Linked DNA regions of Homo sapiens: region 2 is linked to region 1. Evidence: fine-mapped expression QTL. A gene starts in region 1. The other region holds a variant in brackets. All regions are shown on one strand. Distances are from middle to middle.

Region 1 (9,286 bases):
AATGTGCTCATAGCACAATGCACTGAAAACAAAAGTGGCTCATCCTTTCCACTCCCGCTCTGGATGAAAGTCCTGCTCCATCTTCACCTGCTGCGTGATTTGGGTCAAGGCACTGAACCTCTCTGAACCTGCTTCCCCCACTGGAAAATGGAAATAACCATAACTGCAGCACTCAATTGTTTTGGGAATCAAGTACGCCTGCAAAAAATAGGATGAGTGAGAGGAGCTCTTTCCTAAGAGGACTTCCTGTAGGAAAGAAGATTCTAAGCACTGCTTCTGTGTTTTCTTTGAGGATGTTTCTGTTCATGTAAGTTCTAGAAATGTGTGGTTCCATCGTAAAATGTAACTCTCTTCTGACTTTTTAAAAATAAAATGATCCTGGGCCAGGCGCGGTGACTCACGCCTGTAATCCCAGCATTTTGGGAGACCGAGGTGGGTGGATCACGAGGTCAGGAGATTGAGACCATCCTGGCCAACAAGGTGAAACCCTGTCTCTACTAAAAATACAAAAAAATAATAATAATAAAATTAGCTGGGCATGGTGGCATGCAACTGTAGTCCCAGCTACTCAGGAGGCTGGGGCAGGAGAACTGCTTGAACCCGGGAGGCAGAGGTTACGGTGAGCTGAGATCACACCACTGCACTCCAGCCTGGGAGACAGAGCAAGACTCCTTCTCAAAAAATAAATAAATAAATAAATTAAATAAAATAAATAAAATGATCCTATCAGTTTAATCTCAGGTATACTTCCCGTCTCTCTCCCTGAGTGCCCTAAGGAGGAGCCTTGTGACCCAAGACTCTCACTGGTCTGTCTGTCGGGTGGTGTCTGCATGAGAGTCACACAGCTGTGGCAGCCTGGAGAGAAGTGTATTCCCTACGTGTGTGACCTCGGCCAGGACACTTCGTTTTGTTATAAAACCAGTAGATTGGTCCAGGTGACCTGAGGTTCCTTCCAGCTCAAATATTTCAGGATTTTATGATTCAGAAGCATAAATCATTAGGCCAGGACCTTTAAAAATCCTGTTGATCATCTGAGGTCATAGAGTGTTATTATTATCTTACTTGTTGTATGATTTGGGAAGACAGAGATCATGTCTCCTACATTAAAGATCGTGTCTCCTACATAAAGATTTATGACACATAAAATCATGTGTCATACAACAGAATTTTTTGCTTTATTTTTTAAATCCAGCCAGATTAACATTGGAATCTGAGGAGAGAGGCAGATTTTCTAAGAAAGCATCTGAAAATGCTCCACATGATCTTTTAATTTCATTTGTATTATGTAAGATTATATATATATAATGGAATATATGCGCCTCCTATTTGTAAATAATGAAGCATAAAAATATTTAAAAATAACGCCCTTAGCCAGGCATGGTGGCACATGCCTGTAATCCCAGCTACTCAGGAGGCTGAGGCAGAACAATGGCTTGAACCTGGGAGGTGGAGGTTGCTGTGAGCTGAGATTGTGCCACTGCACTCCAGCCTGGGCAACAGAGTGAGACTCTGTCTCAAAAAAATAAATAAATAGGCTGGGCACGGTGGCTCATGCCTGTAATCCTAGCACTTTGGGAGGCTGAGGTGGGCAGATCACGAGGTCAGGAGATCAAGACCATCCTGGCTAACACGATGAAACCCCGTCTCTACTAAAAAAAAAAATACAAAAAATTAGCCGGACGTGGTGGTGGGCGCCTGTAGTCCCAGCTACTCGGGAGGCTGAGGCAGGAGAATGGCGTAAACCCGGCAGGTGGAGCTTGCAGTGATCCGAGATCAGGCCACTGCACTCCAGCCTGGGTGACAGAGCAAGACTCTGTCTCAAAAAATAAATAAATACATACATAAAATAAATAAAAAATAACACTCACAAGCCTACCACTGGACTGAAGAAACAGAACATAATGGATCCCACTGAGAGTGAAACAGACATCTCCCTGATCAATTACCCACTTCTCCCCAAAGATAATCACCTTGATTTTGCATTATCATTCCCTTGCCTTTTTCTTTTTTAAACCAGCTTAACTTTGTGAAATAGAATCTACGTATAAAGGCATGTATAAAACATACATGTAATTAGCCAGTAACTACAAAGTGATCTCCTTTGTAACTGCCCCCCCGACTCTCCTGATCCTCTCTCACCTTTCCTCAGCACGCGTGGTAATGCTTGGCTTTTATTTAAGCTAATCACCTTCTTGCTTTTTGTCGTCATTTTACTTCTCAGCTATGTGTCACTAAACAACTCATTGCTTAGTTTGGTTGTGTTTTGAGCTTTTATAATTGCCTTAGCAGTTCTCCATGGAGATGCTAGGATTCTCTATACCACGTCTGCAGCCTAGAAACCCAGGCGAGAGATCCAGGCTGCACTCTGGTGTTACAATGATAGTAGAGGGTTAGTAATAATAAAAACCATCAGTCCTATTTATGGTGTGCCCGCACCATGCCGGGCATTCTGCTAAAGCATCATCCCCAGTTACCTCAATTATCTTCGCAGCAACCCCAAAAGGGAAGTATTTCAAGAGGTCAAAATTAGGGCATCAGCTTCCCAAACTTGTCCCCCGTCCACTTCCTAGCTTCCTAGCTGCTCAGCCCCAGAACATCATCCCTAAGTCCTAAAGCAAAGGTTCCTTTCAGGATGGGAGGGTCAGGAAACACTGCTGCTCCTGGGTTCCTATCTTTGTGGTCCAGTCAGGCTGCTTAGATTATATATATATATATATATATATATATATATATATTCAGAATCCATATTCTTTTCCAGCAAGTACTGATGACTTAATGAAGACAAGCATCCTGTCCGGTCAGTACTGTTTTCCCAGTGATGAACGTACAACTTTGTCCTTGGATTGTCTAAGATAGGCCATGTGGTGCCAGGAAGAGCATCAGGTCAAAAGCCCTTAGTTCTAATCCTGGCTGTACCACATCCAGCCGCTGGATATCAGCCTTCTCATCTGTAAATGGGCAAGCAATGACAGCCTTGCCTACTACCAGATCCTAGGAGGTGAGAGGCAGGAAGAGCTTTGGAAGACCCCACGAACACATTTGAGTCCCTCTGTAGGCTTCTCTAGAACCCTTCAGAGTTGAAAGGGGTGACCAGGAACCTGGGAAAGAGTCCCAGGGCAGCCCAGGGTTGGAGCTTCAGGGCCAAAGTGGTTAACTGAAAATATTCATTATCACCCCGCCCAGGCTGGAGTCCCCTGGCTTCCAGTTTTGAAGCAGAGGTCAGCTAGGCGGTGTAGGACACTGCTCCTGGGTTGACCAATGGGCCACATCAATGGGTCAGCTGTTTGGGGTCAAGAGCCTCCTGCCCTCCCTGGGGCCAAGGGCCAGCTTTCAGTGCTGGGAGGACCATGAGGGGGGTGAGCCAGGACTACCCACCATTGACAGACAAGGGGAAATCAAGGCAGGGAGAAGAGGGGCAGAGGCAGAGCAGAGGGGAACCCAGGTATCCCGACGAGGCCCCTTCGCCTCAAACTGTGACACCTTCTCACATGTGCTGTGTCTGACACCATACAAAATGCTGATCAGGGCAAAGCTCGTTTAGTGCTCATGAGGCCCTGCGAGGCAACACCTGCCGTGCTATGGTTAGCCCCTTTCCACGGGGAAGGACGCTGAAGCTCTGAAAGGTGAAGCAACTTTCCCAAGGCTACACAGCCAGGAACGGGCTAAGGCAGGACTGGACTCAGGCAATCCAACTTGACTGCCCCATTCCTAACAGCTGGACAATGCGGGAAGCCTAGCTGCCCAGTGGGTTCCCAAAGGCTCCAGGGTGCTTTTGACGTTGAGCTGGGCCTGCCCAGTCTTGCCTCCCGGGGCCGCCAAGCCAGGGCCCCCCGGCAGCCCGCTCCAGGCTGCATCACAAGGCAAAGGGGCTGCCCAGGCATGGCCAGGTCCATGGCTGCTGGAGAGCATGCAAAGCACCCGAGCAGGAGCCTTGTTCCCATGGAGACAGACAGAAAGGACTCCAACTCACTCTGAAGTGTACCTGCAGGGAGCCAGGTGCCAGACTGTACCTGGAGGCAGAAACCTGAGCCTGGATTCTCACCACTTCCCTCTGTGCCACCAACACATCCTCAGGCCTTCTTCTCAGGACCCCCAGCAAGACACGAGTTCCAGAAATAAGACATCCCAGCCCACTTCCCGCTCAGCCACCCCCAGAGGGGCCTCTCTGGTTGAAAACAACGCCTGGGGCCAGCAGGCTTGGCACAGCTGTGGCTGTCAGCCTGCCGAGCACCGTCCGGCCTGAGGAATGTGCAGACCCACATGTGCTGGAGCATCCCGCTGGGGCACAGTGACAGGAAACTGAGCAAAACAGCTCGTTGGCACTGATATGCCCCTCCCACCTCCCAGCTCCTGACTCCTATGGGCTGTTGGCTGCCCTGGAAGTGCAGGCGGCAAGCCCAGGCCCTTCAAGAGAGCCAGGCAGTGTGGCTCTGGGCAAATCACTCCCCCTCTCTGGGCCTGTTTCTGCTTCTCTTGGTGGATGAAGGACGCTGTCCTGCCAAGCTCAGAATGGCAGTGATTTTATGACATGCTCTCCTTTCTGGGAGGACGGTCCATTCTCCTCATGCCCTCATTCATGTGGGATGGGGCATGCCCCCAAGACACATCAAGCTATCCCACTAGCAGCCCTTGGCTGTAGAAAGCCCCCCCACCCAGTGCAGGGATAAGGGTGACCCTTCAGAGTTGAAAGGGGTGACCAGGAACCTGGGAGAGTCCCAGGAAAGCCCAGGGTTGGAGCTTCAGGGCCAAAGTGGTTAACTGAAAATATTCATTATCACCCCGCCCAGGCTGGAGGCCCCTGGCTTCCAGTTTTGAAGCAGAGGTCAGCTGGGCGGTGTAGGACACTGCTCCCGGGTTGACCAATGGGCCACATCAATGGGTCTGCTGTTTGGGGTCAAGATCCCAAGACCCCAGGGGAAGTCAACATCCATCTGAGGCTCTCTCAGGCCCTGCAAGCCATCTCTGGCCTCACTGCCCTCCCCTTTAGAAATGTGGGAATGAGGCTCAGAGAGGTTGAGCTGCTTGCCAAGTTTGCATAGCCAAAAGGCGTCTGAACGAAACTGAGCATTCGGGGTTGGACTTCCCCTCTTCGCCGCCTGCTCTGCTCTCCCAGGCACTACTGAGCGCGCTCGCGGTCGCCAGGAGCGGATTGGGCCCCCGCCGCGCGCAAGCCTTGGTGACAGGTCAGCCCGCCCCTAGGGGAGGCAGAGGGAAGCCCCGAGGAGGCACCCGGCCCGCTGGGGCGCGCTGCCCGGGGCTTTAGGGCTTTTTCTTGTGGGCCGGCCGAAGCTCCCCGGGGTTGAAAGGAAAGGCTCGGGAATTTCGCAGCCAGCACAGAACGGTTGGATTTAAACTAAAAATACCCGCCCGCCCGCAGCTGTCACGCCGGGGCCCCCGCCCCCGCGCCGGGCGCGCCTCCCCAGGTCCCCCAGACTTTCGGCGCCCCCGATTCCCGGGGCTGTGTCAGAGCTGGGCCAGGGGCTGAGGACCCCACCCGCCCGGCCCCCGGCCCCCGGCCCCCGGCCCCAGGCCTGGCCTCCCGGCCCCGTGCCACTTACCCTCCCGGAGCGTGGAGGAGCGCGGCGCCGCGGGTAGCTGGGGCCGAGCCTCCTTCCCTCCTCCCTGCGTCCCGGGCGGCTCCGGGGCGGGGCAGGGCTGGGGCGGGCCCGGACACCGCGAGTACCCCCGCCCCCGCCGGGACCCGCCCGGTGGCCCCGCGGGAGAGGCCGCGCCCCTCTCCGCACGCGCTCAGCGGAGGCCCCGGGTGCGCAACCCCAGCCCGGCGGACATCCTGCGTGGCCCCGGGGACCAGGGCCGAAGAAAAGCCTCACCGCTCCCTGTCGCGGACCCGGGGCGGGGGTTAAGGGGGGGGTCCTGTCCACGCTTGCCTGGAAAGCAGCCCGGAGCCCTGGCCCCTGTCTGTCTCCCCGACACACACACAGCCACCCACCCTCTTCTCATCCTAGGGGATGGCGCGGAGCTGCCTCTCCGGGAAAGTTGGATCTGTGCGCCCAGACATGGAAAAGGGATTAGGACACCGGCAGATCTTGCCCTCACAGAGCGGAGGTGGGGGCCTTGGAAGGGGCACACCGCCCGTAGGCGCGAAATCCAAGAAGAAAATGACACTCATCAGCCAGCCTCGCGCGGGGAGAAAGGGCGGGGTGGGGGGTAGTGGCACCCTGCCCGTCCTCTCCCACCCCCACAGTCCGGGCCCACAGTCCAGGAGTCACAAGGGATGTGAATCCCCAGGCATAATGTGAACCCCCAACAAACCCAAGGCCTCAGAATGCGCCTCACCTCTCCCTCCCCACCAGCAGAAACATCCTCCCACTCTCCCAACCCCTGCTCCAGCCACGCCAACCCTTTAACCTTGTCCCAGAATGTCTAAACTGTATCTGCCTCTGTGCCTGTGCACATGAAGTTGCCTTGGCCCGGCGTTTGCTCCACAGCCTTCTGCCAAACTCCTACTGCTTGATGGCTGGAAGCCTTCGCACCCTGGCGCTCTCCTCCCAGGTCAGCAGTCACTGGCCTTCCTGTGCATCCAGCCCAGCTTTGAACAGTCCTGGGCCCCAACCCTTATCTTTTTCCGAGTAATTACATGGTTGCATGATTGGCTTCACCGCCTCTGGATCAGATGAGCGCTACTAATGAAGGATACAAGTTGTAAAACTAGGTTTTATGTGAACTCCAGTCATCACAGTTTAGGTGCGGCTAGCGATTTTACAGATGCGGGGTTAGTAACTGGCCCAAATCCAGGGCTTCCGGGATGCTGTTTTCCTTTTTTGTTTCTTAGCAGGGATGGCAGATGTTTGTAGAACAGATCCGTGTAAAAGTCAGTATCCTAAGAGATTAAATTGTAAAGCAGGACAAGATAGTTAACGGTGTGTGTGTGTGTGTGTGTGTGTGTGTGTGTGTGTGTATGTCTTTTCCAAATTGAGAGGGAGGTAGAAGAATTAGCCAAAACCCAGGATTCACTCTGAGGTAGACCCACACCTCTTAGTTAGATCCCATTTATTAAGCTGTAATTATTCACAGCGTTGCTGAAGATATACACAGGGCCCCTCCCATCTCCCTGCGACTGACTGGTTCCAAGTATGCTATTATATGTGTTATTATCACTGTGGCTCAATTAGAAGTGCTGCCGAAGGCCTTGAGGTTGCCACAGTCAAACTGCAGGTGCAGGCAGCGAGTAACAATGATTATAATGCCTGCATCTGGATCGCGCTTTTTGCTTTTCAGAATGCTTTCAAATGTGTCTCCTCATTAAATCTCTGCAAACATCCTCCAGGTAGTTAGGAAAAGTTTAATGAGTTTTGCCTGACAAGGGAAACCAAGACACAAAGAGGGCAGGTGACTTGCACAAGGAGAGAGATGGCTCCCCCAGGCTGCTCCAAGGGTGGAGCTGGCCACTGTAACTCAATGTCCTGCAGGAAGAGATGGTTGGGTACAGTTAGGAGCTCAGGCTCTAGTGCCAAAGTGCCCAATTTGCAACTTTCAGCTGATTACTCATACTTGGTTTCCTTTTCTGTTGAATAGATCTAATAATAGGAGCTTATCTTGTATGGTTTTGTGCCTGGTATTTGAGCACCCAACTCAGGCGAGCTGTTATGTTATGGTTCTGGGAATGGTATGATTGCTACAGTTTCTGCCATACAGCTATTCAGTCTTTCGTCAAACATTCCTGAGTATCTACTATGTGCTAGTCTCTGGGAATATGAAGAAGAATGAGGCATAGACTACTACCTCCAAGGAGGTCAGGGTGTAATAATTCTGTGTCAGGGGACCATGGTGCACAGAGATGAACTGTCCCTCCTGCTGCCGGTGCAGTGCAGAGCACCAGTTCAGAGCAGTGGAGATATTCACTTTCCAGGCCCAGCTTTGCTACTTATTTAGCTGAGTGAATCTTACACTGTAAGATTCTGTTACACATACAGTGTGCACATACAGTCTAATCTTACACTGAATGTGACCTCTTACAACATTGGTTTTTCTCATCTGTTAGATGGGGATAGCAATAATTTTTCATAGGTGAAAACACATGTGATAAACATATTTTATAAAGTACAAAATACTGTGCAGATAGTTTTGTTATTATCAATGTGATTGTTATTATCTTGGGCTTTACAGGGCTTGCTGCTTTTCAGAATACTCTCCCATTCCATTGCTTTTCTTAGAGTCTCGCTCTGTCACCCAGGTTGGAGTGCAGTGGTGCAATCTTGACTCACTGCAACCTCCTCTCAGATTCAAGCAACTCTTGTGCCTCGGCCACTTGAATAGCTGGGTCTACAGGCACACACCACCACACCCAGCTAATTTTTTGTATTTTTAGTAGCGACAGCATTTCACCATGTTGGCCAGGCTGGTCTCGAACTCCTGACCTCAAGATATCTGCCTGCTTGGCCTCCCAAAGTGCTGGAATTACAGGTGTGAGCCACCATGCCCGGCCATCCATTACTTTTCTTAAGCCTGACATAAACATCACATCAAAAACAGAACCCTATTTTTTATTTGATGCCAATCTTTTTCTCTCCAAAGTAGTCCACATGGAAGGAAAACAAAAGTTGAGTAAGCAATGCGAAGGGATGGGGCAGTTTACAACTAGGAAGTCCACAATACCTTCGTCTTCAGCATTACCTGCAGCTACATAAGGGGGTGGACATGAAAACCCATCTGGAAAAAAAAATCTGGCAAAGGATTGGGGGAAGAGCCCCTTTGTCATCTCTGGAATTGAACACAGGAAACCCCGCCCTGAGACCTTCCTTTCAGAAGCAGCCCAGAGAGGGAACCACAAGAAGGGCACTAAAATTATGCTGTTCGGAAGTTCTGACTCACTTGGCAGCGCGGGCTGTTTGTGCAACGTACCAAATGTCCTCCAAAAAGCGAAGTTTTTACCACTCTTTCCCTCTGTCCCTTCCCTGCAGCCAGCATCTCCACCACCACTCATGGGGAAGCAGGAATCAATTTAATAAGCCTGGGGAAATTATCTGGGTCTGTTTCACATTTGCTGTTGGTTAGCCAGCTTCAGTGGCAATCTGCACAATCCTCATTTTGTAAGCATGATTTTTTCAGTTGTTTGTGTGTGTGTGTTCAGTCTCCACAGATAGATTACAACAAAAGCTGCAATGGCTTTTCTGGCTAATAAAACACCTCATGGGTAAACTGAGGCAAGAGAGTAGGGACGAGGGGCATTGCCCAGGGTTCCAGGATAGGAATTGCTGTTCAGAACATTTACATTCCCATCTCTCCATCTCTAGCCTGGCTTCCCACTTAGTGGTGAAGTACATAA
Region 2 (9,286 bases), 110 kb before region 1:
CTCTCTCAGCCTTGTTTTACTCTTCAGTGGAAGAGACGAAAAAGCATTTGACATTATTGTAAGAATCAAATGAAAGACTGTGGGTGGAAGTGCCTAGCAAACTGTGAAGGTTGCATTATCATTTTATTAGGCATGGTATGCAGTACCCATAAGGCAAAGGTCTCCCTCTCTGACTTCCTTGACTCCAGGGTAAATTTGAATTTTGACATATATTAAAATGTAGCTTGGGAGATATTCTGGCAACCGCACACTGTATGTTTTGCATTTGGCTTCCCTGGCCTTTGGTCAGGGTTGAACATGCATTTCAGCAAAAACATGATTGTAAGAAAATATTTCATTAATCAAATGCAATCTCTTTCTTTATAACCTCTGCATTACCGACCCCCTACCTGGCCCCAAAAAGGAAGGCTTGCTGCTTGCACAGACGCCTCCCTCATGGCTCCGAACCATACCCCTGAAGACCTCGCCCAGCAATACACGTTAGCCCACACAACCATGTTTTCCTTTCCAAACCCTAAAAAAAGAAAAGAGCCCTTTCTCTTTTCTTTACCCAGAGTAATCCTGAAATTATGCACCATATCCGGAAGACAGACATGGCCCCAAATTTAATTTTCTGGTTTCTGCAGAGCTGACTTAATCAGACCAGAGTCGAGGAGGGATCCCCCAGGGATGTACCCCCAGAGCTCTGCTACGGCTCCCAACCTGACAAGCCGTGAGACACGGTCACAACACTTTGCCCAGAGCACCATGTGCCTGTGTCTATGTAGGTCTCTGTGTGTGTGGTGTGGGTGCGCACCTGTGTATATGGCTTGCATGTCTGGCAATTGTGTATGTTGACTGTCTCTATCTGTATCCATATGTGCCTCTGTGGTGTCTGTGTGTGGTATGTAGTGTATCTGTATGTGTAGTGTATGTGTGCATCTGTGTGTGTTTGGTGTGTGGGGGGGTGTGTACACACATGTATGCAGGTGGGGGGTATGTGCAAGCATGTGCATGTGTCTATGATGTGTATGTGTGTGTCTGTATGTGGTGCATCCATGTGTGTATGCCTGTATGTGGTGTGGTGGGTGTGTTTGGCATGTGTGCATATATCTGTGTGTGGTGTGTGTTTTGTCTGTGTGGCATGTGTGTGTATGCATGGTGTGTGTGATTGTATGTGTGCAAGTGTGTGTATGTATGGAGTGTGTCTAGGTCTATATGTGCCTCTGTGTGGTGCATGGTTGTGTGTGGTGCATGGTTGTTTGTGGTGCATGTACTTGCACACAGGTGTGTAGTGTATGTGTACGTGTGTGTGTGTGTGTGTATGGAGTGTGTCCGTGTCCGTGTGTGCCTCTGTGTGTGGTGCATGGTTGTGTGTGGTGCGTGTACTTGCACACAGTTATGTGGTGTATGTGTAGGTGTGTGTGTGTGGAGTGTGTCTGTGTCTATGTGTGCCTCTGTGTGTGTGGTGCATGAATAAGGGGTGTGTGTGCATAGGCACTCAGGTGCGTGCACGTGTCTACAGTGTATAGCATGTGTGTCTGTGTGCCCGCGTGACCTGTCACCCATGCCCTAGGATGAAGAATTGATCGTGGGCTCGATCCTGGGGTCCCTGGGACAGTCCCATGCCTTGTTCTCTCCCATGTTCCTCATGGTTATGGAGAACAATGGTTTGGCGAGGACTGGCAGTGCTGTGAGAGATTTCCAAGGTGATTCACATCGAAACTCCCCGTTTGACAGAGAGGGATCTGAGGTACAGAGAGGGAATGGGACTTACCAAAAGTCACAAAGCAAGTTGGTGATGAGTGCGAGGCTGGAACCGATTTCTCCTGCCTCCCCGGCCAGTGTGCTTTCTCCCTGGACCCCTTCAGGGAGGTCACAGCCAGCCTGCTGGGGAGCTGGTCATAGGGAAGGACCTTGCTGGGATTTGGGGATGGACAGCTTGGCTACATGGATTAATCAGGTGGGAAACTGCACGAGCGATGTCCTTGAGCATGAGTTGACAAACGCTTCTGTGAAGGACCAGAGTAAATATTTTAGGACTTTGTAGCGCAAGAGGCAAAATTAAAGCTATTTTGTTGGTACTTACATAACCATGTAAAATGTAACCCACTTAAAAATTTAAAAACCATTCTTACTCCTTGAACTGTGTGAAAACTAGTGGCAGCTAGATTTGACCCACAGGTCTACTCCTGTCCGAGGCGCTGAGAATCAAAACAAACAAGTAGACAAATCTGAACTTACGAAACCCCAAACAGGAGCAAACACAAGAAGGTCAGTGCCAGCAGCCGAGAGCACAGAACAGGCAGCAAACAAAGAGCCATGGCGGTGTTGTGTGAGAAGTGCGGAGCTGAGGTCACAAACTGGCCTGCAGAGATTGGGGGTTGGAATCCCAGGTGTATGGCGCTCAATCACAGACTGTGGTCAGAGAGAGGGTCCATTTTCCAGGATGGTCCAAAATGAGGCAACGGAGAAGAACTCCATAGCAGGAGCAGTGCTCAGGGGAGCAGGAGCCCTGTAGGCTGGAGGGACCTCGGCAGATGCTTGTCCAGTTTTCTCATGGGTGGTAACCTCACACTGCCTGTCCTCAGTGCCATGGTCCACTTGCTGAATGAATGCCCAGGCCTGAAATCTTTGCCCAGTGTCTTATTTGGTCATTTTGTGAGCTGCATGTGTATGTGGGTGTTTTAGTCCATTTGGGCTGTTATAACAAAATATCATAGCCTAGGTGGCTGATAGACAACAGAAATTTATTTCTCATGTTCTGGAGGCTGGGAAGTCAAAGATCAAGGCACAAGCAGTTTCGGTGTCTGGTGAGGGCACGTTTCCTGGTTCATAGATGGTGCCTTCTTGCTGTGTCCTCACATGGTTGAAGGGGCAAGCTCTCCCTCTGGGGTCATTTTAATAATCCCATGCATGACAGCTCCACCATCATGACCTAATCACCCTCCAGAGGCCTCACCTCCTAATACCATCACCTTGCGGGTTAGCATTTCAACGTATGAATTGGGAGTTGGGGGAAATAAACATGCAGGCCTTACCAATGGTCCACAGCCCCCAGGATGACTACTTCTGCTGCAAAACCCCTAACCCTCAGCCCACCCCACAGCTTCACTTGGCATCCACTTGGCATTCACAGCTTCACTTGGCATCAGAATAAAGAATTTGAGCCCAGGCATGGTGACTCACACCTGTAACCCCAGCACTTTGGGAGGCCAAGCAGGCGGATCACTTGAGGTCAGGAGTTCAAGACCAGCCTGGCCAACGTGGCGAAACCCCATCTCTACTAAAAATTCAAAATATTAGCCGGGCGTGGTGGCAGGTGCCCGTAGTCCCAGCTACTTTGGAGGCTGAGGCAGGAGAATCGCTTGAACTTGGGAGGCGGAGGTTGCAGTGAGCTGAGATCGCACCACTGCACTCCAGCCTGGGTGACAGAGTGAGACTCTGTCTCCAAAAAAAAAAAAAAAAAGTATTTGAGCCTAGTTGACCTTGCCTGATATAATGCAACTAGTCAGATGTATAATGCTATAGGATTACAGCCCCCGTGAAGGCTGCTGATGAAAGACAATGGGGAAGGAACGTCCCCCACTGTCTTTGAAATGTGTATTTAGTAGTTCATTTTGCCTAGAAGGAGAAATGACTGAGAGTACAGATCTACACAGAAGAATGGGCAGTACCCAGCACCAGAGAGTAAGCTCCAGGAAGGCAGGGTTTGGGGGTTTCTGTTTTGTTCACCATTTTATTTATTCTTGATGTATAATAAGAGCTTAATAGTCCAGGTGAGGTGGCTCACACCTGTAATCCCAACACTTTGGGAGGCCGGGTG[T/TG]GGGGGGGTGGGGGGTGGATCACAAGGTCAGGAGTTCGAGACCAGCCTGGCCAATATGGTGAAACCGTGTCTCTACTAAAAATACAAAAATTAGTTGGGTGTGGTGGCACCCGCCTGTAGTTCCCAGCTACTCGGGAGGCTGAAGCAGAAGAAGCGCTTTAACCTGGGAGGTGGAGGTTGCAGTGAGCCGAGATCGCGCCACTGCACTCCAGCCTGGGCAACAGAGTGAGACTCCATCTCAAAAAAAATTAAAAAAAAAAAAAGAGCTCAGTGATATTTTTTATTTAAATATTCTTTACTTGATTCTTTCCTTAAGGATGGTCAAGGGCTCGAAAAGGACAAGAATGGGGATTGATAACATGGAAGTTTGAGGAAAATATATATGGGTAGCCCTTTCAGCGAGATCTTGGGTATAACGATATGTATGTACTGTTTGAATGATCATCAAAAGTCCATCTGTGGAGAGAAGGCTCTTGATAATCAGGTGTCCAGACATCACTGGATGTCAGTTCAGTTGCCCATGAACAAGCAGGCCTGGTGGCAGGGATGCGACAGCTAACCTCATAATTTAGTTCACAGACTTCAGGACATCAAGTAAAATTGTGAATGAACCAGAGGAAAACTAACAGAGCACAGAAATGGATATATTGATAAATGGGACGTTTTGCTAAGCACTCACTTGCTCATACGGGGGTAGGTGCATTAGGTGGAATATGGGAGCTATTGTTTCCACTGCTGTTTTTGCTTGGAAGTTTAAATATGGAAATTGGGGTACACCGGGACATGAAGTATCCAGAGGCATGGGCCGTGGGGGATACTGTAGATTTGCTTATTAATTGCCCATTAAACTCCTTGCAAGATGTTTTCCCATAATGCAGAAGGGTAAAGCTAAAATGGCATTGGCCGAGTGTGGTGGCTCACATCTGGAATCCTAGCACTTTGGGAGGCCGAGATAGGAGTTCGAGATCAGCCTGGGCAACATAGGGAGACTGTCTCTAAAAAAAAAATCATTTTTTTAAAAAAATAAATAACATGGCATATCCCTGCCTCCTTTGCTGCTGTGTTCTAAATGTGAACCAGGTTTTTCCAATTCCAACTCTCCTTCATGATGCTGAGTGTGGGAGGGAGGTGCATGAGGAGACAGCTTGACATGGGCACCCCTTTGCTGCAGTGCAACGGAGGCGAGGCCTTTAGTCCGCAGCTGCAGTATTCTCCCTGTCTGGCAGCCTCCTGCGGGGCAGCAGCAGCAACTTTCTCCACCATGAAAGAGGCAGCATGGTCCTGAGGCTGAGCTCCTCCTGAAATCTCAGATTAGAGTCTGTTCTTCAACAATTTTGTGAGCCATTTTATACCCCATCATAAATCCCTTTCTCCTTAAGCTAGTTAGAGTGGATTCTGTTTTTTGCAACTGACTGCTGACTGATTCTAGACTCTCCCCTTAACAAGCATCTTCAGGACACTTGTAAGCCCATAAGGGAGATCCCGGACTCCTGGCAGTAGTTGCAGGGCAGTACTTTGGGGTCAGAGTATGCATCCTAGAGAATGTAAAAGAAGATACTTCTTCAGAACCTGCCTAGCATGACCCAGGAAGGCATTTGGGATGGGGTGGTATAAATAGCTTCCAGTTATGGAGTGTGTCCTATGGGCTGAGCACTGTGAAAGCCCTTTACACATACTATCCCATTTAATCCGCCCAACCACATTCCTTTGAGATAAGTATTCCAGAAGATGGGAGAACTTTGTTAAGGTCCAATGCCTTGCAGATTTGGTTGCTTGGAGCCAAACACTGATCAGGATGATTCCAAGCCTGTTCCTAGAACAGTTTCACCGTCACTTTTAAGGGAGTAAGTTAAGAGCAAAAGAGAAACTTCACATTTTTTTTCCAGGGCCATAAAAAATCATATTTTTAAAAATAAAATTTTTAGTGATCTTACTACTGGGAATTTATCCAAAGGAAAGGAAATCATTATATTGAAGAGACATCTGCACCTTCATGTTTATTGCAGCACTGTTCACAATAGCCACGATATGGGATCAACGTAGGTGTCCAACAACAGATGGATGTAAAAAATATGGGATATATACACAATGGAATACCATTCAGCCATTAAAAAAAGAGAAATCTCGTCATTCGTGGCAACACGGATAGAACTAGAGGACATTATGTTAAGCAAAATAAGCCAGGAACAGAAAGTTAAACACCACATGTTCTCACTCATATGTGATAGCTAAAAAAAGTTGATCTCATAGAAGTAAAAAGTAAAATGGGATACTAGAAGCTAGGGAGAGTAGGAGGAAGGAAGCATAGGGAGAGACTTGTTAAATGATACAAATTACAGCTAGATAGGATAAATAAGTTCTAGAATATTACACCACTGTAGGCTGACTATAGTTAACAACAGTATATAGTTTCAAATAGCTAGAAGAAGGATGCTGAATGTTCCCAAAACAAAGAAATGATAAATGTTTGAGATGCTGGATATGCTAATTACCCTGATCTGATCACTTACATTATATGTATCAAAACATCACTGTGTACCCCATGAATATATAACATTACTATTTGTCCATTAAAAGAAAAGAATTTTAAGTGTGGAAAGAAAGAAAATATGTAAGCTGATGAAAAAAGAAGGAAATAGACATTTTTCTAGTGTTCAAATCATACAGTGCTTGTCCTAAATACTGCTGAATTTGCCACTTGGAAGGGAAGACTAATCTGTTTTGGAACATGCCATTATTTAGCATGTAACTTTTTACTATTTCTTGATTATAAAGATATCATTAAAAACTGCAAAATCAGTTTTTGAAATGTTCAATGCTTTTAAAAATTCAGATCTTTTCATTTACTAGATTGGCAAAACAGATTATTGATAAGATTCTATTCATTTCATTCTAATGAAAATAGAAATGAAATAAAATGGAACAAACAATAAATAAAATTTTTGGCCAGGCGCAGTGGCTTACGCCTGTAATCCCAGCACTTTGGGAGGCCAAGGCGGGTGGATCACGAGGTCAGGAGATCGAGACCATCCTGGCTAACATGGTAAAACCCCGTCTCTACTAAAAATACAAAAAATTAGCTGGGTGTGGTGGCGGGCGCCTGTAGTCCCAGCTACTCAGGAGGCTGAGGCAGGAGAACGGAGTGAACCCGGGAGGTGGAGCTTGCAGTGAGCTGAGATGGCGCCATTGCACTCCAGCCTGGGCGACAGAGTGAGACTCCGTCTCAAAAAAAAATAAATAAAATTTTTATTTGGAATCATTTAGAAAAGGTGCAAAAACAGCACAAAGTTCCCATAACCTTCACCCAGTGATACACTCTGGATGTTTGTCCTTCCAGATTTCATGGAATCCCCAGTGCTGGAGGTGGGGCCTGGTGGGAGGTATTGGATCACGGGGGAGATTGCTCATGAGTGGCTTAGCGCCATCATCCCCCTGGTGATAAGTGAATGCTTGCTCACAGAGATCGGGTTGTTTAACAGAGTGTGGTACTTTTCTCCCTCTCTCTCTTGATCCTACTCTGGCCATATGACATGCTGGCTCCCTGTCACCTTCTGCCATGATTGTAGGCTTCCTTAGAACCTCACCAGAAGTGGATGCCAGCACCATGTTTCCCGTTCAGCCTGCAGAACTGTGAACCAATTAAACCTCCTTTCTTTATAAATATCCAGCTCCAGGTATTTCTTTATAGCTACACAAAAATAGACAAACACACCCAGTCTCCTCTAACGGTAACATCTTACATGTCCATGGGGAATTTGTCAACACCAAGAAATTAACACCAGTGCAATAGCGTTAATGAAACTGCTAACTTGATCTGTGTATCATTGGCCTTTCCACTAATGCCTGTTCACTGTTCCAGGATGCAATGCAGGATTCCACATTGCATTCAGCATTGTGGTTTGTTGCTTTTTACTTTTTGTTATCCCATCACCTCATTCCAAAGGAAAAGGGCCTCAGTGATTTGCACAAGCCCAAAGAGAGGAAACAGATAGCATGAGACAGGCCATGTCTCAGAACAATTTAGAGCAATTTCCCTCGCTGTCCATTGGTAGAGGAGCCCTCCTATTAGAAATTAGCAGCAGCAGGCCACAGTGAAAACCAAGCTGGAGCGGGGAGCAGGGACCAGGATGCACGCCAGTATGCAACTGCAATACGGAATTCCAGCCCGGAAGCCCTGAGCAAGTTGGGGTCTCTCCTTTTGCAGCATAATGAAAGGTAGCAGGACGGAGAGCCAGGGCTGCAGAGGCAGTGACAGAGGAGGCTGGCAGGGCCAAGTAGCTGAGTAACATTCTCACCAAGAGGATTCCACGAGAAGGTGATGGATCTCTCCAATTAACCATGTCATGGTTGGGCTTGGAAGCCGTGGATGAAAACTGAGGTAAGATAATTATTTCCATGGGACGCCTGGTTGTGAAAAAAATCACACGGTCATAAAAATGAATGAGTCGTCCAGCCAGAAACACTAGAGAACTCAGTAAAGATTTAGAAACCGTGTGTGTTTAATGCTACTCTCACAGTGGGCTGGGTTCCCACAAAAGGTGCTAAATTAAAACAAGGAAGGGTAAATCTAGTTTTCTCACTGAAACAGCGTTTTAACCCTGAAGTTCCTGACCCCAGGTTTGATGCTTCTGCTGTGGAAATAAACATGTATACCACGTTTAGTTAACATAAATGACACGTGGCATACCTTTATGTTATACGGATTAAGGCTTCTTCAGATCAGCTAAACAGGGCTATGCCGTGATCAATTCCATATAGACCTAAAAGGCAGAGCATCCCCGTGGACAGAGTTCTGTCTTTCTTCAAAAAGCATGCTGCTTTATTTTTTGGACAACTACTTAGAAGGTAAGGGTTCTTGTTATTCGGGGCCACAAGACTCACAAGTGTTTCTGTGAGGGTACTTAGCACCACTCTAAGACTTTAGACAATGGATCCCGATATGCTGGGTGAAATCACCTCCCTCAGTTGTAAACTCCTTGTAGCCAGCAGTGGTCTTGCTGCGGCCTGATAGTGGAAAGTGATTCTTCCATTTGCAGGGTCCTCTATAGGAGTGCTGGCAACCTGGCTTCATCTGCCCTAAACAAGGCAGATGGAAAAACCAAGGACCGCTCCTCCTTCCTAAAAGAACAGACTTTCCCACCCTTTGCCCTTTCTCTGCAGAACTGCTTCACCAAGTCAAAAACTCAGAGACTCATTTGAATGACATTTAACTCTAGGGCATGCACCACTGAACCAGATCCAAATCTATTACTTTTGATGGCAAAAACCATAATTATTATTATTATTTTTGAAATGGAGTCTCACTCTGTCGCCCAGGCTGGAGTGCAGTGGCGTGATCTTGGCTCACTGCAACCTCCACCTCCCAGGTTCAAGCGATTCTCCTGCCTCAGCTTCTCAAGTAGCTGGGACGACAGGTGTGCACTGCCACACCTGACTATTTTTTTTTTTTTTTGCATTTTTAGTAGAGGCAGGGTTTCACCA

Direction of the effects. Positions count from the first base shown, and alleles are read on the strand shown. Sizes are in standard deviations (SD) of each study's normalised expression.
In carriers of allele TG in region 2, the expression in prefrontal cortex of the gene that starts at base 5,083 in region 1 tends to be lower than with T alone (moderate effect, 0.59 SD a copy in BrainSeq).

The links. PIP is the estimated chance that this variant, and not a neighbour inherited with it, causes the effect.
Region 2: its variant is fine-mapped to the expression of SYNE3-AS1 in prefrontal cortex (BrainSeq, PIP 0.95).

Annotation. Positions count from the first base shown.
Region 1 is chr14:95,511,038-95,520,323 of GRCh38, forward strand. SYNE3-AS1 (SYNE3 antisense RNA 1) reads left to right here and starts at 5,083. Exons shown (of 2, transcript NR_188030.1): 1 at 5,083-5,183; 2 at 5,967-6,874. SYNE3 (spectrin repeat containing nuclear envelope family member 3) reads right to left here and starts at 5,613. Exons shown (of 18, transcript NM_152592.6): 1 at 5,559-5,613. RefSeq lists silencers at 5,015-5,309, 5,059-5,868 and an enhancer at 7,293-7,442.
Region 2 is chr14:95,396,842-95,406,127 of GRCh38, forward strand. It overlaps LOC105370640 (a long non-coding RNA gene), which reads right to left and starts at 8,265. Exons shown (of 3, transcript XR_944174.3): 1 at 8,101-8,265; 2 at 1,757-1,991. The variant T/TG (reference allele first, on the strand shown) is at 3,806.